Homo sapiens: one gene and its partners. The protein of the gene in region 3 interacts with the protein of the main gene of each other region in a biochemical or structural test. Each region holds a gene or a part of one and is shown on either strand. Other genes may lie near its edges. The genes, in order: KCNA2, RET and PTPRA.

What was found.
Region 1: the proteins of PTPRA (region 3) and KCNA2 form a complex in vitro, tested with the Homo sapiens proteins (one study listed by BioGRID).
Region 2: of the proteins of PTPRA (region 3) and RET, one has a biochemical effect on the other in vitro, tested with the Homo sapiens proteins (one study listed by BioGRID).

Annotation. Positions count from the first base shown.
Region 1 is NC_000001.11:110,594,283-110,601,386, forward strand, and holds part of KCNA2 (potassium voltage-gated channel subfamily A member 2), read right to left. Parts: 3' UTR 1-7,104. UniProt on the Homo sapiens protein: Voltage-gated potassium channel that mediates transmembrane potassium transport in excitable membranes, primarily in the brain and the central nervous system, but also in the cardiovascular system.
Region 2 is NC_000010.11:43,108,003-43,115,106, reverse strand, and holds part of RET (proto-oncogene tyrosine-protein kinase receptor Ret isoform a precursor), read right to left. Parts: intron 6,077-7,104; coding exon 5,877-6,076; intron 3,901-5,876; coding exon 3,642-3,900; intron 3,009-3,641; coding exon 2,883-3,008; intron 2,255-2,882; coding exon 2,144-2,254; intron 1,552-2,143; coding exon 1,432-1,551; intron 628-1,431; coding exon 371-627; intron 1-370. UniProt on the Homo sapiens protein: Receptor tyrosine-protein kinase involved in numerous cellular mechanisms including cell proliferation, neuronal navigation, cell migration, and cell differentiation in response to glia cell line-derived growth family factors (GDNF, NRTN, ARTN, PSPN and GDF15).
Region 3 is NC_000020.11:2,868,813-2,876,562, reverse strand, and holds the start of PTPRA (receptor-type tyrosine-protein phosphatase alpha isoform 1 precursor), read right to left. Parts: upstream 3,083-7,750; 5' UTR 2,803-3,082; intron 1-2,802. UniProt on the Homo sapiens protein: Tyrosine protein phosphatase which is involved in integrin-mediated focal adhesion formation.

The DNA of each region.
Region 1 (7,104 bases), on a different chromosome or scaffold from region 3:
CTCTCTCTCTCTATATATATATATACATATATATATATATGTGTGTGTATATATATATACACACACATCACACACAATATAAAGTCTCCAGAGGCAGCCTATATAAGCACATAAGCACACAGGTCTGGAAAAGGAAATAGCATCCTCCACTCATGAGCTTTACAGCTATGTCCCTGATGAAAACTAGAGAATCTTCCTTGATTGCTGGCACCATTAATCGCAACTGTTCCAAGATTATCCTTAGTGGAGAGAGGGGTGCAGGGATGCAGAAAACCAGGAAGAGGCCAATTTGGCTGGGGTATTGTTTGCTCAGCAGGCTAGAGCTTGATCATGGGACTTTCCAGCTTCCTGGGGCCCTTCAAATGAAGGAACCATCCAAGCACGACAACAAAAGGAAACTGGGTCGCTGGATCCCACGTGAAGGCAGAACTGGGGCAAGCACAGAGCATGTTCAAACCCTCAGGAGCTGAGACTCACCCCCGCCAAAGCCAGCCAGGCCTCTCTTCTTGCTTTTCTATCCCATTTCTTAGCCTGGAGCTGATGTGCTCCTTTCCAGCCCCACCTGGCAGGTCAAAGTCCTTGCCCTACACTTCATAGGCTAAAAAGGCAGTAATGTTAGCAGCTGACATGGAAATTGTTTGGTAGCAAAGTGCGCCCCTGAATATTCTCTTCCTCCCAGCTCCTCCTATTGCTTTCTCTAGCAGCCCAGAGCATTTATTCACTCATACAAACAAGGCATTCGGTGTCTAGGGAATCATTTTCAAGGAGAAGCAGGGCTTAGAGGCCTCTCACAGAGACTCAGAAAGACACCAGACTGAGTCCTCTGGATAGCTACCAAGGGTCCTAGCACACAGCCACATCTACACTGCCCTCAATGATCTAGATGTTGCAGTAGCTGTCCACATTATTACATAATCATGCCCTGTGCATCCATCAGTGGAATGATGCAGGGAGTTCTCAGCTGCAAACTCATCTGGAACATATTAGACTATTTTAGGAGTGCAGAGGAGCACAGAAAGTTATATCCATTTCCATGCTGAGGTTCATGAAGTACAAGAAGTAGCCATCCAGACAGGCCACCTCAACTGCCTCAGTGCACCAGCTGGTCATGTCAAGTCTGGGTTATGGGCTTCTGCTGCCTGATCACAACTAACATAGCCAGACTGGAGGGCTTCTGTGGGTGTGGGGAGATGGCAGACACCCCTGCACCACTTCAATTGCTCCAGATACAGTGAAAAATCCCTCCCACTCCCATCTAGGTAGAAAGCAACAGTCAAATGCAAGAGGTGAGGCTGAGAGAAACTGTCTTCCATGGATCTAACACACTAGCAGGCAAGAGGGAGAATGAGAGCAGGTTTTAGCTTGCATCCAGCTGTTTCTTGAGTGATGTGTACAGCTTACCCCCAAAGAGGCAACTGAATTTCAGCTGCTCTAATACCCACACCCTCAACTTAGGTTTAGTCATAATAAAAAACAGAATGGATTTGTTAGTTCCATTGATTGCCACAAACCTCACCTTCTGTGTGGCAGAGATGTGCTTTAGTTCTTCATTGGAATGTTACTTTCAGATCTCACAAACCTCAAACCTAGGGCACCACCAATGACAAAGAGAATGCTAAATAGATAAATCCTTTGCCAGGTCTTCAAGCTTTCCACTCCCCTCGAGTACAAAGTTTGGAATAACTTTTCTGATCCTCAGTGATGAGGTTATAGCCAACCAGGGCAGACAGAAGAAAGGCTAAAGCACCTGGCTGTTAGATCAGACTTCCCTTTTATCCCTGAGTCAGGCAGCCACCTGGGAGGGAAAGGAAAGAGGTGATCCTGTAGCCTGTTCTTTTTTTATGAAAGATCTGCCTTCTAGAGAGGTCCCTAAGCAGAAAAAAAAAGAGTAGAACTGGAGAGGTGAAAAGAATGCAAAGGAGGTCATTCAAAAAATGCACATAAATGCAGTTTATTCCTTGGATTGCCAAATTTATTCCACATAAGTGAAACTAAGGAGATTGGTCAATGTATAATTCTATAATTTAAAAATAGTATACATATATACATATACTATATATATATATATACACACATAAATATATGTATATATGGAAAACCTCTAAAAACTCAGGACCAATTAACCAAAACCTCGATTGACAAGAATTATGTTTTCTTACTATCCTTTCAGTAGAAAGAGGCAAATGACAGCAAGGGCTCCGATGAGCCAGGATGTGCCCCAGTGGCCCATTTCCAGGCCTGTCTTGTAGCCAGCAGCCATTCAGCCTGTCTCTTTGGTCTTCTCTACCTATGTCCACTACTGTACAATAAGCATTGAGGTTTACAATGTTGACCCTGAGCAAGGCAAGGTCCCTGTTATCTTCAAACACTCTACTTAACTAAGGCAGGAAAGTTATGCTAACCTACTTAGGAAATATTTTTCTCAATAACAAAGGTTGAACCAGACATGCTTTCCCATTCCCACTCAAATAACCAAAATTGCAAAGCAATCAGGATGTTCCTGTCCCTGAGGTTTCCCCATCAGTTAACTGAGGTTTTGCTGTACATATGTGTATAGAGCAAGGTAGATCAAAAAAGGATGGAATGGGACCCTGGGGTTGCCAGCCTTCCCTGATTGTCCAGTCTGAACATTTAAGCTCACAGATGTTAGGAAAGGGGACTCTTCTGAAGCCCCTGGCTATGTGTGCAAATATTTGTGCAGCTGCACACTCTAGCGGGTGGTAGAGTCTTTATTTCACTAATGTCATGCCCTAACCACCCAAACTTCTATCCCTGTAGACTTCTACTGAAACCCACAAGAACCTGCTTCCTTCTGCAGCTCTCACGGAGTCCCTTTGGTTGAGCAAGTCAGCTTATTTTGAAAGAGAGTCAGAGGGCAATTCCCAAATCTGCCCAGGCTACTGATCCCAAGTGCAAACCTCCAGGCCACATTCCCTCAGCATCCGTCTCCCTGGGGAAGGGAGAAGGGGAAGCAAAAGGATCAAGTAATGGCTTTTAGTGCATGGAAATGATCTTCTGTAATGGCTCAGGATGCTTTATTCTTATCTATTGGGAAGTGCTTTCGTGTAGGCTTCCATTACATCTGCCAGACTGAGGGAAAGTCAACAAAATGGGCTGAAAAGGTCACACAAACTTAGGATTTTCATGCCTAGAGGTTGTAAGGATGCTGTATGACAGCAGGCAGAAATGGGGAGACAGAGGGAGAGGGGACAGAGACACACATGGAGACAGAGAGGTGCACACAGGAAGGAGACAAAGTGACAAAGCCCTCTCACAGGCCTTCCTTGTGCATACACTGCATCTTAGCATATGTGTCCATTCCAGAAGGAGGTCAGATCTCAAGAGGACAGGAGTCATGTGAACACGTGGGAAGAAGAAGAAACTACAGAGACTGTGAATGAGCCCCCAGAAGTCAAGGGCATTATCTGATAATCCAGGTACTATCTATCACTTTTCAGTCCTGAGAGCAAGATTTTGAAAGAGCTATTGCTAAAGAAAACAGTCACTATTTATTTTATTGCACTTTTCCTCTTTAAAAATATTCAAACACAAACTATGAGAGATGAAGCTGAGATTTGGTGGGAAGGGAAGCAGAAAAAAAGGAAAAGTAAACTAGGTTAGTTTGAGGAAGAGAACCTTCCTGCATGTAGGGGAGCCCCTACCTCCATCTGTCCCTGCTGGTTGCTTTGATAGGGGAACAGGGTTGGACTCAACAAGGGCTAAGTCTGAAGATATAGATGATGGTCACAATAGCTACTGAGAGAGCTCCCAGCATCCCCCTCTCTGCGCGTTGGCTCAGGTGACTGATGATGTTAATGAGGTTAAGGTCATGAGTTCAAACCCGGCAATGGATACCTTGCCAAGGCTAGGGGAACCTCCATTGTGCAACCAAGGAGCACCATGGATATTATAGCCCTCGCAGATGAGGCGGCCATCACCCACATACAAGTTATTATGACAATGGGCCCCAGGAAAGCTCTGGGGAGCAGAGCTCAGCACCATCATCCCCTCTCTTGAGTAAACAAGTCAAAGCACTGTGCTCCCCTGCCTGACATAGGGGTAGTGGTGCCACCTTCATATGCAATTTGCACACTGTTCTATAGTTTCCTTAGGGGGGAGTCAGCCTCTGTGACTCTACTACTGTGGGCAGTGCTGAATCCCCAGCCTGAGGAGCTTCAGAGGGTGCTGTCCTCTCTCCACATGGGTTGATACTGATAGAGTCCTCACTATAATATAGTGAGAGATCCAGGAAGAATAGGTAGAACAAGCTAGTCCTGGGCCCTCCCAACACGGAGCAGCAACATGAACACCCAGGCTGGGGTCTCAGGCCATCATAGCTTCCATGGGAGCCCTTTCCATACTAGGCTAACGCAATCTAGAGGCACACTCCCGTGGGGCCCCTTTTAAAAGGCTAACCTCATGGTGACATGCCAACACTAGCCTCAGAAACACAGGTGAGAGGGACAGAGGCAAGCAGAGAAGAAGGAAGAGAGCATGTCAAATATTACTGAAGTTTCAGAAAGCACAGAGCCTTAATTATTTTCTTAATTAAATGTTGGCTCCTAAAAAGTTTACTCTGAAATTTGACCCACTCAGCCACTCTCTCTTCCTGACAATCTCTCCACCTTTCCTGGGCCTATTCCTTTTCGGTCTCCTGAAAACTCCAAGTTTCTTGAAAATGAATCCACAGAGGCACTTGATGAAGCCAACAGGAATGGTACCTTGACCTGGAAACACAAGTTTCCAGCAAAGCACACGTTTTGGACCCATATGTCCACTCCCTACTGTTGTTACCTTTTCTGTAGAGACTGGGAGCTGCGACCATCACTGGAAGGGAGAGTGAGACACAACGGGATGGCTGCAGGAGCAGAAATCAGGAGTGAGGCCTGATCCAAAGCCTGACTGCAACTCTTTACTTCCGATGTAGGTGAAGCCTTTGCTAAAATGCACTCAGCTCTCAGCTAGTCCTACTTAGGGGAAGAACCAGCTCCAAGAGTAATCCAAAATGGTGGGTAATCTTAGAAAGTATTTAAATATGGCCTTAGAATATAGGATAAAGTCAGGCCCTCTAAAAAGTGTTAGCTTGCTTAGCCTTAGATGTATGTTCTTAATCACTTTTTACTTAAGCTGAACTGGGTTGCATAGCAATTGGATGGGAGGCAGGGCATCCAGGGGAGCCCAACAAGAGGAAAAGGAAGAGCGTGCCCGGGATTGAACACACCCAGAGGGGAATCAGGAGTTGGCCCCTTTGGGCTTATGCACAAGAGCAAGTGAAATGCCACAAGCAAGTAAAGGTGGCTCATTTTAAGAGACAGGTCTCTATAGGGTCTCAACTTCCTGACCGTGCCCCCAACAAAGCTGCAAAGGATGGAAGGGCAATAAAATCTGTGGGCTTAGAGAATGTTGGGGACATCTTTACCCTGGTCCTGGGCTCAAGATCCTGCAGTTTCTTGAGCCATTACTGCTTTTAAGAGAATAGGGCTGAATCTGGAGATCCCAGGTGCTGGGAGAAGGGGAGCCTGGGCTATTGGGTTGTCTGTGCGGATTTGCTGGAAGGAAGGAAGGGTCATGGCAAGGAGGCCTATATTAGGCTACCAGCTGTCCCAGGTACTTTCACACCCTGCACCCAGGTTTCTGGTGGGAGGAAGGTGAATTGGTAGAGACCCCATGCAATTCCTGGTCTTAGTCAGATATCTGCTTGATGTGGTGGCCCATCCTCCTGCTTGAAACCTAGGAGTTACTTCTCAGGAGTGAAATCTGGTAGTGAGAGAAAAGAATAGAGAAAGAGATTCCTTGAAAGATCCTGGGGGATATAGACACAGGCCAGGCAAAGGTGATTACATCTGATCTTTTGTTTGTGCCTGTTAATTCATAGCTCTGGGGGCAGGGCAATGGGTCTGAGTATATGTCTGCATTTCATGTGTATTGTGCGATATTTTTGGGCATGTGTGCTATGTATCTTGTATGCCTATTATAAGTTAATGCATCGTGTGTATATACTGAGTTTGTGTGTATTTTATGTGTAGAAACAATGGTAAAGTAGCCTTTGTGTATCTTATATGCATATGCATTTTGTCCATGTAGTTTTTTATGTATTTTGCATCTGAGTTTCAGGTTGTATATTTGTATGTGGTGTATGTTTGTCTTTTGTGTATGTTCTGTGTAAATTCTATATCTGTGCAGAGTGTGCATTTTATATACAATTATAACCATATATCTTCTGTGTTTGCTTTTATGTTAACCTGGTCTGTCTGTATTTTGCACGTTACATGTTTTATGTTTGTGTGTGACAACAGTGTACCTATTTTGTGGTGAATGTGCATGACTGTATGTGAACATTTTAGAGTCCTGGGCCAAGGACACTGTGATAAGATATCTATCCCTGACCTAGGCCTCAGATATGGGTTGCTTTACCTTCTATTTTCCAAAGATCTGTGTCCCTCCCACCCCATGCCTTGGAAATTCAGCACCACCTCCCATGAAGGAGAGGAAGAGAAGCACAGAGGCTTTGTGCTGGGCATGGGATGCCCTGCAGATACCTGGGGATGTGGGTGACCAGGCACTAATGAGCACCCTGGGCCTAGCACCCTGAGCTGGTGCCCCATGCCCCAAGACAACTGTAGGTGCTAACTAGGCAGCAGTGAGGCCTGGGCTGGAGCCACCCCTGCATAGCCCGACCCCTGCAATTCACTGTTTGGGAAAATTAAGCTACTCCGTCAAAAGGCAAAGACGCCCAGTCTGGTGAGTTAAAAGCCCCCTACCTGAAGCCATTTCAGGGTCAACCTACTGTCTACCTTTAGGCTGTGCAGTGCTCATTTGCACTCTACTTCTTCTGGGGGGTGGGAAATGATTCTTTACCCATCCTTTGGTTCTTTTTAAAAAGCAGCTCTGGTTGCCAGTTTAATGGGGAGAGAGTTTGGGTCTGGAGATCAAAATGATGCCTTTGGATCATCTAGGGACTCCATCACTTAGTCCCGGACTTCAGACATTTCCACATAGAGGAGGCTCCCTTTAGGTCCAGATCAGTGGAATTTGGTCCCAGGGAGTCCTACTCCTTGGTGTCCTTGGTTTCAAAGCAGGGGATCCATTCTGGCTCTTTAGCGA
Region 2 (7,104 bases), on a different chromosome or scaffold from region 3:
CAAGGAGGCTCCAGGATACTCGGCACAGCCTGGAGGCTCTGAGTAGCACATGCAGACCTGCAGGCCAGGCTCCCCAGAAAGGCACCCCCTTCTGACTTCAGTGCCCCTCCATCCACACTGCTGCTCCCCTGCCCGATGCTGTGACCCTGACCACTGCCTCTCACCTAGATGGGAACGGCACCTCATCACAGTCCCACCCCACAGACTGTCCCCACACAGCGCCCTATGGAAATGGGGGCAGAACACAGGCCTCGTCTGCCCAGCGTTGGCAGCCCCTCACAGGATGGCCTCTGTCTCCCCAGCTGGCCTCCCTCCCTGGAAGGCAGCTGGGGAGGGCAGGGGATCTTCCCTGCCCCGCAGGGACCCTCACCAGGATCTTGAAGGCATCCACGGAGACCTGGTTCTCCATGGAGTCCAGCGAGGGCCGGCGGGCACCGGAAGAGGAGTAGCTGACCGGGAAGGCCTGGGCGGGCCTCCGGAAGGTCATCTCAGCTGAGGAGATGGGTGGCTTGTGGGCAAACTTGTGGTAGCAGTGGATGCAGAAGGCAGACAGCAGCACCGAGACGATGAAGGAGAAGAGGACAGCGGCTGCGATCACCGTGCGGCACAGCTCGTCGCACAGTGGATCTGTGGGTGGGGGTGGTGTGAGGCTTGGCACCGCCAGAGGCTCGGCACCACTGGGTACAGGCTGCGTATGCTCTGCCTCATGGCTCTCCAGCCTGCCGTGTCCGCGCCAGCTGGGAAGTGGCCATGGAGGTGTGGGAAGGCCTGAGAACACCCCATCGAGCATGGGTACTGCCATTTACTGCCCCCTCCTAGACCACTATTGCCCTCTTACAGATGGAGACAGAGGCTCAGAGAGGCTGAGCAGCCTGCCAAGGTCACACAGCAGAGGCTGTGCTCATTACACCAGCTGGCACTGGAGGGCTGGCAGGGGAGGTCAAAATTTTCCTCTGTTCCAAATGTCTTTGGCATTTTCTTTATGAAAATGCTAAGTGGCTAGGGACGTAGGGCTATATAATACCAGAAAACTCAATGACAGAAACGTGTCCCTATGCTCAGGCAGAACAGCACCCCTGAGTGTAGTCAGTGTGGCTGTGCAACCCACCATACCTGCTGACCTTGAAATGTGTTCCTGGGTGGGTCCCAGCTGCATGGTCACAGGGACAGTGACTTGTCAGGCTGACAAGTTGTTTGGTGGAAGAACTGCTTTTCTGGCCTGTCCATCATAGAACTTATGGCCAGAAGACACTTTACAGGGGCCCTGGCCCCTCTCCTGGGTGGAGTAACAGAGGCCCAGAGGGAGGGAGGGAAGTTTCATGGGGCCCACTCGCCTCCCAGCAATTTCCTCCCTTGTTGGGACCTCAGATGTGCTGTTGAGACCTCTGTGGGGCTGGGAGGTGGTGGTGGTCCCGGCCGCCACCCACTCACCCTGGATGTCTTCGGGCTCGCAGAAGCACTTCTCCTCCTCAGGGAAGCAGTTGCAGGTGCCATAGCCAGCTTTAATCCCCCGGGGCTCCCCAGGCTCGTGTCCCCCAACAATGCTGCCCCCTGAGGGCAGACGTAGCCCACTCAGCCTCCTGGGGCGCCTGACCACCCCAGGCGCCCATATTTCCAGGGCAGTGTCCCAAGGAGCCCCCTCCCCAACTGGTGTCGCAAGCATAGGCCCAGTGAGGCCAGGGGCCCAGCAGCTTGGCTTAGCCGGGCAGGGCTTGGTCACAGTGCCTTTCTGAAGCCATGGGTGAAGCCAGGCCCCCTCCTAACATTTCATCTGAACAAAGGACTCTGCCTCCAAAACTGGAGCCTGGTGGCCTGACCCGCACATTGCAGTGTCCCTCGTCTGGCTCAGGGCCGCACTTTCCCTGTCAGTGTCCCTACTGACCATTCTCTGCTTCTGAAATCTGTGTGTGCCGACTTCTGGGACCTCAGCAGGGGCCTGGACAGTCTGTGGGTCCCTGCCTTCCCCCTGTCCCTGACCCTGCCTGCTCCCTCCCCATGGCTAGGGTGATGCTGAAATGCACAGGAGGCTCAGCTTGATGCATAGAACTGACAGCCCTGGCAACTCTGGCTGAAGTGCCTGTGGGATCCAGGTTTCCCCTACTATCTCCTACCTGTTCCCATGCCCTGATTAAACCCTGCTTACGGAGGCAGTCCTGAGGGCAAATGTTGATGTCTTGGGTCTCCACAACATCGCAGTGGCCGTCGGGGCAGGTCTTGGTGCTGGGAGAGCAGGTGGAGAAGTTCCTGGTGATCCCTGCACAGGACACACAGCAGGCTGTCACCCATGTGGGAGCCCCGCCACACGCCCCCACCACCTCCTAGGCAGATCCTGCCCCTCTAGGGAGGAGCAACTGGAGGCCTGAGTAGGGAAACACCATATACAGAGCCTTGCCAGCGGAAGCATCCTGGGGAGCCATGGCTTATGGGAGAGGAGGTATGGGGGGTTCCTCACACAGGTGGCCCTTACAGCAAAGAGGCCGGGACCCTCTCAGGGCTGCATGGTGAGGGCCCCTCATGGTGGTGGGCACACCCAGGCTGGCCTCTGGCTGATGCAGACAATGAGTCCCCTGCCCACACCACATCCCCTGGCCGAGGACCTCCCAGAAAAACGCCATTCTGTCCCCAGCACATCCCAACTTTGGTTCAGACCTTCCCAAGTCCAGAGTGAATCCGGCCTGGGGACCATTCACTGTACTCACAAGCCCTCTCCCAAGCCCTGCACTGCTGCCCGCTATGCTGGCATCGAGAGCCACATGGGGGATGAGGTGCCAGAAGCAGACCTGGAGCAGGGAGAGCCACCCCAGGCTGGCAGGGCCCCAGGACCCCGTTTCCACCGGTGCCATCGCCCCTGCAGGCCTCCCTTGGGCGTTTCCAGGGCTTACCTTTGCCATCTCCTTGCCTCCACTCACACCTGCCTGTTGGGGAGCCCAGGCCGCCACACTCCTCACACTCCAGCCGTCTCTTGCTGACTGCACAGGACAGGGGGCAGCCCGCCTCCTCGGCCACATCTGCAGGTGGCAGACAAGCAGGGTCACAGGGGGCTGGCCTGGGCCCAGCGTCCAGCTAGTGCCCAAGGACAGGGAACAGCACCAGCTGAGCTGCCCACGGATGGAGCCCAAGGGGACCGGAGTGACAGACCCAGGGCAGCAAAGACAGTGCCAGGAGCACAGGGCGCAGGGCAGGGTACAGGACATCATGGTCACAAAGCAGGGGTCACCTGGGCTGGGGTAAGTACAGGAGGAAGGATGTGAGTGCAGCCAGATTCAGCCAACGACGCCCTGTGGGACCTACATTTCAGATACACAATGAATGGCATGAATGGCAGCTGTGTCAGCATGTTCCTAAGAGGGCATGGATGGACCTAGAGGTGTGTCTTTCGAGAAGCTGCAAAAGTTGCATGGAACACACCTATACCAAAAAACTGCTTGTTGTTTACCCAAAATTCAAATTTACCCAAGGTCCTGTATGTTATCTGGAAGGAGCAACCATTTACTGCTGGGTCACTCAGGGTGAAGCTGGTCCATGCCTTCCCCACTCCCCAGCTAAGCCTTGCAGCTGTACTGCTTTTCTCAAAGGGCAGGAGGCCCAGGCTCCAGAAGCCCCCAGGACCCCGACCCTCCCTCCCTGGAGCAGGCACTCACATGACCCCTCCACTGTTACAAGCAGCTGGGCCTGGGCCTGCCTAGAGGTCTGCTGGTCGGTGGCCACCACCATGTAGTGAAGTTCGGCACACTTGGGCCGCCGCAGGGCCTTGGTGTCATTCACAAACAGGATCCCCGAGGTGTCCTCGGCTGAGGTGACCACCCCTAGCGTGCTGCAGTTGGCACCAGAGGAATGCAGCTTGTACTGGACGTTGATGCCACTGAATGCCTGGCAGTTTTCCACACAGACTTTCCCGATCTAGGGGGGCACAGGGGAACACCTTAGCCAGGCAGCTGGACCGGCCTGTAATGGCCTGAGGGTAGAGATTCCCACACAGCCTAAGTCCTGGAACAGCCCCCAACTGGGCCTGGAGACAGCAGCCCCCCCGAGCACCCTGTCCTCCACCCCTCAGAGCCTTCATACCCACCCACCTGCCCCAGCCCTGCCCTGCCCCGTTCCACTCAGGCCACATGTTACCAGCTGCCCCTGTTCCTGGGAGCTGGAGGTCAAGGCAACCCAGGGCCTCGAGGTTCAGTTTGGTGGCAGGAAAAGCCCCAGGCAGGCCCTGACTCAACCCTTTACTCCCCTTTCCTCCCTCACTCAGACAACAAAGCCGCCGGAATGTCTCCCAGGCTCCTCCCTGGCTGCTCCCAGCTGCCCCAGCAGTGCTCTGGGGACCCCTCACTCCTCCCTCAGTGCACAGGGTTTAGAGGTCCACCCTGCCCTGGTGTCCCCTGGTCAGAGCACTGAACCCCAGCCACAAGACTCGGGAGCATGGTTGCCCCAGCCCATGCAGGACCAGGGGGCCTCCCTGGGACTTTGAGCAGAGCCTCTGGGAAAGAGGAGCCTCTTCTCCTGGGGATGCCAGGCTCTGGGACTTTGACCAGAGCCCCTGGGAAAGAGGGGCCTCTCCTGGGGATGCCAGGACCTGGAGTCAGGCAGCTGAATTCTTTCAACCTCTTGGCAACTCTTGCAGCTGCTTGAAACCAAAAGTTCCACAGATGGCGAGATGGGGGCGGGCCAGAGCAGGGCTGGGCTCTCCCAGGCCCACAAGTGACCACAGCAAAAACCAGCCTCCTGGGCCTCCTCACTTTCCCCTACAAAGCCCACTTCCAAATGCTCATGTGACTCTCAAAATTGTTCAGGGTTCCTGTCCCTAATTCACAGCTTTACAAACTGGGGAGAAAGGTGAGACCACAGTGAGGCTGAGGCTGGACTGGGATTCAGGCCCCCGTTGCTCCTGACAGAGGGCAGGTGACCCAACTTCAGCAATGCCTGCTCTTGCCCCGCCCCCCATGAGACCCCCCGGGGCCCTCTGTCTTGTCGCCCCTCTGTCTCTGATCCCACTCCCATTAAAGGCCAAGGAGGTGGTCGGGGAGCTTAGATATGTCCAAGGGTGGGCTCCCTCGTGGGCTGGACACGGGTGGCTGCCAGGAGCTGATGCGGGCACAGAACCACCCGAAAGAACTGGCAGATGGCCCCTGAAGAGGAGGCGCCACGGGCTGCTCTGCAAGGGAGAGCGGCATGCGAGAACATGCGTGCTGCAGTTTCAAGTCAACTTAATAAGTGCTTACGAGAAACATCCCAGAAAGAACACCACGATGTGCAACACTGGCGCCTATGGGTAGAAGGGATCACGCCTCATGCCTCATGCCTCATCTTCTTTAATGAATATTTATTACTTTTATGCCTTCTATTTCTAATCATTATTTTCCAAAGACAAATATAAATATACGCTTTCTAGCAAACCTAGTTACAAAAAGTAAAAAGTGGAAGCGTTTCCTGCCTCCCCCTGAGGGCACCACTGTGGACAGCACTGTGATCTCTGCACACTTGCAGATCCCTGTCAGGGAAGATCTGCTTTTGCACAAAGGGAGTCACGTGGGACCAACATCTCTGCAAGCCACTCTCACCAATCCACCAGGAAGATTCTTCCGAGTCACCATATGCAGATTTACCCAGTATTGCTCTTGCATTTTTGAAAATACATTTTAAAGATACCAAGAATGGAAAGGGGAAAAAAAGAGAGGCCCAAGGAGCCCCCAGCCCTGCCCACTGTGAGCTCTCCCAGGCCTCTTCTGTGCACACAGCTGTACCTCCTGGCCCTGGGCTCAGGACTCCACCCAGTCTACTCTGTGCTGGTTGGGCCAAGAGGCAGTGTCACCTGCCTCCCTGTGCCCCCATGTCCCTTGGCCTTTCAATCTTCCCCAGACAGGCAATAGGTATGGGCTCACCTGGGCAAATCGGCGAGCCCTCCTGCTCACGGAGAGGGAGTAGGTACTGGGCAGGTGCAGGCTGACCGGCAGCACCGACACGTTGAAGTGGAGCAAGAGGACGCCCGCTCCTGGGCCCTGGAAGTCTGAGTCATTGACCAGCACCGCCAGCTGCATGGTGCGGTTCTCCGAGATGGAGAGGTTCCGGTTGAGAACCAGCCCTGCAGGTAGGGGCACAACAATGACCACCAAGCTGCTCTGGCTGCTTCCTCATGTGTAGCACACCTCTTCCCAGACACAGCCCTGCACTCACACTGGTGCAAACACGCACTTTCACACATACAGTGCCATGCAACAGGCCTGGGGCTGGTCCTAAGTTAGCACCAATGTTCAAACGTTGGGATTTACTGAACTGAAAGTCCAAGGAACCCTTCTCAATTTGAGGCAGCCTGTGTGTGTGTGCATGTGTACGCATTGTATGGGGTGTCTGTGTGTATGATATGCTTGCATGGTATGCGTGTGTGTGGTATGTGTAAGTGTGTAGTATGCATTTGTGTGGTGTCTGTGCATAGGGTATTGGTGCCTGTGTGTATGGGGTGTTTGTGTATAGAGTTGTAAACTGAAACTAAAATCTTGAGTCCCCGGACCAACTGAATAGATCCCCTCTTGGCCAAGGGACACCAGAAAAACCTTAAAAACAGAATTCTGGGCCATGACAGGAAGGCAGGGTGGACTTGCCTTATTAGGCCCTCTTCCTGCTGGAGTTTGGACACAACTGACCGGCATTAACATTAAAACAGAGATCATAAGACTGACAGATCGGACTCTTTGTGGCAGTAAGATACCAAATTATAAACAGGACCTAAGGCCATGCCAGGCAAGGGTTAAGAAACACCCTACAAACCATAACATTGGTTTTCTTTTTTGAGACAGAGTCTTGCTCTGTTGCATCTCATTGCAGCCTTGACCTCCCAGGCTCCAGCCATCCTCCCACCTCAGCCTCCCAGGTTCCTGGAATCCAGGCATGTGCCACCACGCCTGGCTAATTTTTTGTATTTTTTTTTTTTTTGTAGAGACAGGGTTTCACCATGTTGCCTAGGCTGGTCTCGAACTCCTGGACTCAAACAATCCACCCGCCTCGGTCTCCCTAAAGTGCTGGGATTACAGGCGTGAGCCACTATGCCTGGTCCATAAAATCTTGTTAAAAACCTTTTTTTTTTAAGTTACCCAGGTATAACGTGGTTTACTT
Region 3 (7,750 bases):
CTAAATAAGTAAAAGCATGTCAACAGAAAGAACAAATAACTCTCTATATATGTTGATAATAGAATGATTTCCTAAATATGTTAAGTAAAAAAACCCAGTAAGGTGTGAGTGGTACGTCCCATGGTGGGAGGAGTATGGATAAGCAGGCACATATTTATAAAGCAACAGTGTCTATGGAAGGCCATATAAACTGAAAACTTCAGCCATCTCTGGGGAGGAGGTTAGGGAGACAGGAGACTTGGGGCCAGGGTAGGAGGGACATTTTTCTCTATATACTCTTTTGTATTGCTAGAACTTTTGAATTTTTCTCTCATCTGCATTAATTATCTTTTCCCAAAATTGAGCAGGATTCTCTCTACACCTTCCTCTGGGTCTAAGAGGCTGTGACTCTACCTCTGTCAGACCCAACCAGTGCCTCCTATATTGCAGGGGCATCTGCATTTGGCCCTATATTGCCCCCAAATGATCTTTCCAAAATTCTTTCAGCCCAAGTCCCTGACCTCCTTTAAATCCTCTAGTAGCTCTCCATTGTCCTTACCTGATCCAGCTATGATTAACCTCTTCCCTCCTCCCCAAGGACAGTGGATTCCTTCCACCACCAAGTTTGCTTGTGCTGCTCCCTCTTGCCTATGTGTGCAGTCCACCACGCGCAAACTCCTATGCATCCTTCATGATCCGAAGGCCCCCCCGTCCCAGGAAAGCTTTCCCAAATCACCCAGGCAGGGGATGCTCCCTACACAGCCTGGCAGAGGCTCTGCAAATACACGGCCAAAATTCAAATCTTGACTATTCCCTCATTTGCCCACTGTTTGGCCTCAGTTTCCAACCCTGTAGAGTAGGAATAAGCCCTTTTATGACTGTTGAAAAGACTGAGGGAATTCATGGAAAACATTACATAGCTTGTCACAAGGCAAATAAAAAATAGCTATTATTATTATCACAATCTTATAGCACCTGTGATGTATTTATATCCACCTGTCCTACATTAGACTCTGAGTTCCTCAAAGGTTAAGGACTGACTTCCTCACTTTTGTATCCCAAGCAATTCACCTGGCAAAGGGAAGACACATGAATGTACTGAAGTCAGAGGGGTGGTTTTTCTGGTTCTGTATTTCACCCAGATGTTAAGTGGCTAAACAGAGAACAGGCCCCGGGATCCCACCATGCCTTACAATGCACGGTATCAGCCAGGTCACTTTGAGCAGGCAGAGGTGAAAAGAGACTGAAGGGCTTTTAGTCTTTCAGAGACAGTTTTTTGGAGGCCAGTGGGATATGGGACCTACCAGTTCCCACCTGCTGACTGCTTATGGGGGCTGGGTGGGATGGACATGGGGAAGCCGGGAATCAGAAATACTAAAAGTCCTGGGCATGTACTCCAAGCAGGCCTTCAAAACACGAAAAAATCTCTTGGGAAGTGGATACCGGGAAATAAACAGAGCCTAGGCATAAGAGAGAAGAGATTGGAAAGAATCTACAAGACAACTTGGAGGATTCTCCCACCACGGGAGATAGAAAGGTGGGCAAGACACAGCTCCTGCCCGCAAGAAGCTTCTCAAATGAGAAGAACTTTAAAAGAAAAAGTGGAGCTTGGCAGGTAAAGGTGGGGAAGAAAGAGGATCACATAAAACAAAAACATCCCAACATGTGAGGGGGCAGTCAAGCAGCTCTGAATACTAGCCAGCAAGCGGGATGAGGGGAAGGAGAATTGGAGGATCCGATTAGGCTAAAAGTAAAGGAGTAAATTGAGGCAAGATTGTCAAGGGCTTTGTATGACCTGATAAGGCATTTTAGGCTTCATTCATCCCATGGGAAAAAGAAAAGCGAGGGAGTTTTTAAGTAAACAAGTGACAGCATCAGATCTGTTTCTGAAAGGAGTGGCCAGGCAGGAAGATGTTCGCCCTTTCCTAGTCAGTCCTCCTCTCGCCCACCATCTTCTGTTTCTCAGGCTGCCTGCACAGCTAGCAGGTGGCAAACGAAGCCATCTCCAGGGTGATGTGGACTGGTTCTAGAGCCGGAATCCCTCTCCTGAGCAAAGGCTTCTGATGGCGTTCACCCTGCAGAGGGTGGATTTGCACATTCTTCTTTTCCTGTCTTACAAATATCATCAGTGATCTCAAAAATAAAAACGAAACCCTCAAGACAGGACTCTGCTCTGCTATTTTTTTTTTTTAATCTTCAGGAGATATAATTAGTAACTAATTTTTTCAAAAAAAATTTTTTATTTACCGAAAGTAAAAAGGGAGGGGACCTGCGTTCTCAATTGGCCTATTCTGAATTCTGGGCAGCTCTCAGCCCTTATTTCCCTTCTTAAACAGCCTCAACAGTTGGGAGAGGGCGGCAAGGAGAGGGGCCTGGGAGACGGGCCGGGGGACCGAGGGAGGTGGACTTGAAGGGAAAGAAAAGTTGGTCACTGCAAAAGCAAATTTTCTCATGCCAAGAGTTTTCCTCTTTCCTCCCATTAAATGGACCTGAGCAAATTCTGTTCTCGCCGTTCTAAGTTTCTTCTCTGAGAATCAACTCTGGCAGTGCCCTGGCCTGGTCCCAGAAGGACGCATGCAAAGTTCCTGGGCAGTCGCGAGGGGTCGGCACTCGGGCCGGCACGTTTCCGGGGACCCCCTCCCCGCGACGGACCCGCAAGGATGCACAATCAACCTGCAGGCGCCCGCAGGCTTCTACCCGGAAAAGATGGCTTAGGGCTTCGGGCTCCGGGCTCTGGGCTGTGGCCCGGGACCCCTCCCACCGCCCCCGGGAGCCGCTCCCCCTTCCGGAGCCCACCCGGGCGCAGCGGCCGCGAACACTCACAGAGTCGGGCGTTGGGCGGGACCGCTGGGGACGAGGACAGCGGCTCCGCCTCGGCTCCGCGGCGGCGTTTCGGGCCGCCACTAGCCCTCAGGGCCGCCGCCCGGCCCGCGGCTCCGAGCCCCGCGGCGGCGGCGGCGGCCTCGCCTCCATGGCGAGGGGAAGCGGCTGAGGGGCGACTGGGCGGGCGACAGTGATGGCGGCAGCGGCCGGGGTCCGAGCGCGATCGCGCGCGCGCGCGTCTCTGTCAGCGCCGCACTCGCCGCAGCCTCGCTCCCGACCCGGCCTTGGCTGTAAGACGCGTGTTCATTGGCTGTTCAGAGACAGGCGCTGGTTGGCCGACAGCGAACGGGCGTCTCCGGCCCGCGCGGGCCCCGCCCTTGCGCTCCGCTGGGCGCTCACTTGCCGGCTGGGGCGCCGAACCCGGTCGCACGTTCTCCTGGTAGCTCCAGAGGGGTTCGCCCCGGGGCTGCCCAGTCCTTCGGGAAGCTGGACCCCGGAAGGACCGGCTGCGAGTGCACCAGTGCCTTCAGCCATTCTACAGTCACAGGCCTCATGACTTGGGCCTTCTTCCCAGTTTACAGATCAGGAAACCGAGGCCAGGCACAAACTACACCAATGTCTAGCCACCAGGGCGGCCTGCAACTCGAGAGCCATCTTCCTAACCCTCTCCAAACGTGATACTGTGGGTCTTTTTTTTCCCTCCCCTAATTGCTGCAAAGAACGACGGATCTCACTGGGGAGGGAGAGGAACCTGCCAAGTCCCTAGAACGGATCTGGCTCCGTGGGTGTCGTCTTATATCAAGTCAGCCCACGCCGTCCCCACCCGAGCTCCAGGGTAATCTCCCCCGCTTTCCAGATGCGCATGCTGGGGCCCCGCTCGCCACCGAGCTGAGTAGAAGCACAACACATGGTGCTCTGCGATGGAGGTGCCTTTTGCGATACGCCTGGCGGGGGAGGGGAGGCTCAAAACGCAGAGAGGAGCCAGAGTGCGCCCTCCCCCGGCCGGGGTTGGGGCGCGTACCCCCTTCCCGGCGCTCCCGGCACGGCGTCTGGTGCGTGACACCCGCGAAGCAATCGCTCAGTCCATCCAGCGGCAGCAGGTTCCTACACGGATCCCCGCGGGTGCTGCAGGACCTGAGCGTCTGCGGCTGAAAGCCGATTACGCAGTCGAGATAGGTGGTGGCAAATGCGACATTTCGCCGGGTTGTGATCCCCAGTAGGGACCCCTGGACATTCCGAGACCCGCGCAGGGCGAGCGGCTGGGCGTCTGCAGGCAAAAGACAGATTGCACAGTAGCGCACAAACCGAGCTTGCGGGTAGGGGACGCTTTATCCCAGACCCAGAGTCTGCGGTTCCCGGGGTAGGTGGCGGCGAGTCTCTCCTCCAGACCGGGCAACCCCTGAGTCCCCCTCACGCACCCCAGGCCGGAAGGAGTCCCACATTCGGGGCGCCCCCGGGGAAGGGTTGTGACCGGCGGCAACTCTTCATGGCAGGAAACACTGCGGCGCAAAAGGGGCTCCCAGCAGCCCCCACCATCTCCAGTCCTACCATCTCCGGTCCCCACCACCGCCTTCTGTTGGGGCGCCAGTTAGGGACTCTGTGCCCCACTCCTCCGTATTGTGGGCTCACATCAGCAGCCCCTACCATCTCCAGTCCTACCATCTCCGGTCCCCACCACCGCCTTCTGTTGGGGCGCCAGTTAGGGACTCTGTGCCCCACTCCTCCGTATTGTGGAATAAGTTAGTCCATGCTAACCAGAGCCAGGGCCTGGGAATATGGGTGGGGCGGGCCTCAGGCCGTCCCCTCCCCAGCAGGGAAGTCTCTCCTTGAGTGGGAGTTGTGACTCTCTCTCCCTCTCAGCAGGGCCAGCCTAGAGGTGAGGGTGAAATGGCCGAACCCGACACCTCTGACCAATAGACACTCCAGCCCAAAGGCCCAGAGTCCACACGCCTACTCTCCTAACGCTCAGACCCCAGTGAGGGTGGATCCTTCCCCACGCCCAACATTCACATATCCCCTTAAGTCCAAACTCAATCTATCCCGCAACACCGAATGGAAAAGTGAAAAGCAGGAAGTCAAAGTGTGAAAACCCCTAACAAGTAATGACTGCAAACGCAGGAGGTACCTCAGTAGCTGGGATAGCAGCCCTATGCTCTAGAACCAAACCCCACCAGCTTACTTTTGCCTTATATCTAATTTACACTATTATTTCTTAATATGTTTCTTTTTGTTGATTAGTTTTTTTTTACTTTTTATTTGTATTACCCTAGAAGGGGTTGACATGCTACTTATATTTTTAATATAACTGAAATAGTGATTGCAGTAAGTGTTCATCTTTGAGATTATCTGAAGGACCCCTTTTGGATATGACCACACTTGGAAAAATTGTTGTTGGGCGTGGTAGTCAAAGAGCCCGGGGTTTCCAGCCCCACCATGTGCTGGGTGACCTGAGCCTCCCTCTGCAACTCTTCCTGGAACTTCCCAGGGCTGTATTGAGAATTAGGCATGTTCAGCTTGGCAAGTAACCCATTCTCAGGAAATGAAAGTTCTTTCTCTCCCCATGAGACAGCTGCACTATGGTCAAAGCATTTGTGGGGTGTGCACAGGGGTGACAGAACTACAGACCAAGGAGAACTACAGACCCTGGAGACCCTGGGAAGGAGGGTTCAGCTCAGCAACCACACAGATGCTGTTTCCATTGGAAGAAGACAGAGCCCCCTCCTCAGCTGCCTGCCTGTAGAGACCTGCCCAGCCCTCCATCCTACTTGGCTCCCAGAGTGTCCTGAGCTCCCTCGCCCATCATCATCACAGAGTAAAGGGTTATCCTGGAAGAGAAGAGAACTGAGGAAGGGAAAGGAGGCAGTTTCCTGTGCCCAAGCCTACCCAAATGGGGGACTGCAGAGCCCTCCTACTCCTAGTCCTGCATTAGTCCCAACCCACAGGAGCACATACCTACAGGTAGGCATTTCGCAGCCACCCCACAGGTGCCCCAACAGTCACAGGGTTTATGAGCAAAGGAGAGGATCAGGAGAGCTGGAGGATGGGGGGAAAGGACTCCTGTTTCTTTAGGCAAGTCATTTCCCCTCTCGGGGCCTCCTTTCCCCTTCTAGTAAATGGAACAATGAGTCATTCTCGCAACAAATACTTATTGAGTGCAGACCATGTGCTGGACACAGCAGGGAATAAGACAGAAGAGGACAGAAGAGGCCTCTGCTCTCAGGAGCTTACATTCTGGATAGGAACACAGACAATAAACAAAAGAACAAGAAAATTTCCTAAATGCTGAAATGAAAATAAAGCAAGGCAATAAGATAGAAAGGTGAAGTAAATGAGAGCCAAGTCCCTTTGCAGGCCACACTGTTCAAACCCGAGTTTTTTTTTTCTTTTTTTTGAGACGGAGTTTTTGCTCTTGTTGCCCAGGCTTGAGTGCAATGGCACGATCTCGGCTCACTGCAACCTCTGCCTCCCGGGTTCAAGCGATTCTCCTGCCTCAGCCTCCCGAGTAGCTGGGATTACAGGCATGCGCCACCACGCCTGGCTAATTTTGTATTTTTAGTAGAGACAGGGTTTCACCATGTTGGCCAGGCTGGTCTTGAACTCCTGACCTCAGGCGATCTGCCTGCCTCAGCCTCCCAAAATGCTGGGATTACAGGGGTGAACCACTGCGCCTGGCCAACCCCAAGAGTCTTTCACTGGAACTTTGTATCTAAGAGACTGGACATACAGCCCCTTACCCTGAGAAGGTGAGTTGTAGGAGCCTTTGCTCGATATATATATATATATTTTTAAGACAGAGTTTCACTCATTGCCCAGGCTGGAGTGCAATGGCGCCATTTCAGCTCACTGCAACCTCCACCTCCTGGGTTCAAGCAATCAAGCGATTCTCCTGCCTCAGCCTCCCAAGTAGCTGGGATTACAGGACCCGCCACCACCCCCAGCTAATTTTTTTGTATTTTTACTAGAGACAGGGTTTCACCATGTTGGCCAGGCTGGTCTCAAACTCCTGACCCCAGGTGATCCACCCACCTAAGCCTCCCAAAGTGCTGGAATTACAGGCATGAGCCACTGCGCCCAGCCTTTGCCCTGATTCTCCCTGCACTGGCTACCACTGATACAAGAAGAAATGTTCCCAGATTCTTTGCCTCCAGCTACACAGTCCTAGTTCCTAGCCCCAATCCTAGCGTCATACATTGGACGAAACTTGGCCCTGCCCACCCATGTAGGCATAGGCCTGCTGTACAAACTGCTCAGGGCAGAAGGCATCTCACACTAATTTCAATTGAGTAAGCAAGGATTTGAAAAAAGAAAATCCCAGTTCTGGTTTTTAAATGTCACAATTCATAGGCTTATACATCTGTCAAAACTTAGAAAATTACATTTAAGATCTGTGGATTGCAATGTATGTAGATTTTGCCTGAAAAGAAAAAAAAAATTGCAAACCAAAAATGAACTCTAGTTATTGAAATGCATACTGAAGTATTTAGGGGGAGGTGTACTGATGTCTGCAACTTACTTTGAAATATATGAAAAATACGATGGATTGACATAGAGGAATGGATAGATGAACAGATGTGTGATATAGTAAGATGCTAATGGTAGAATCCAGTGGTAGTTACACAAATGTTCACTGTAAAATTATTTCTACCTGGCTGTATGTTTGAAAGTTTTTATAATAAACTGTGGAGGTGGGGGGCAAATCAGTGATTAACTTTACAAAAAAGTATACAAAACTGCCTTTTTAAAGCAACTCTCCCCATAGACAATTCCAATGCTTCTCTACATGCACACACACCTTTTATAAAGTTGAAATCACTGTTGATATACATTTGTCATCAGTTAAAAGTTATTTCTCACATATTTCTAAAACTTCATATGTACAGTGTTTGTTTACATAGCCTATGAGTAAATATACTGTATGTTACTTTGGAGATGTGGGTTTTGTATTGTG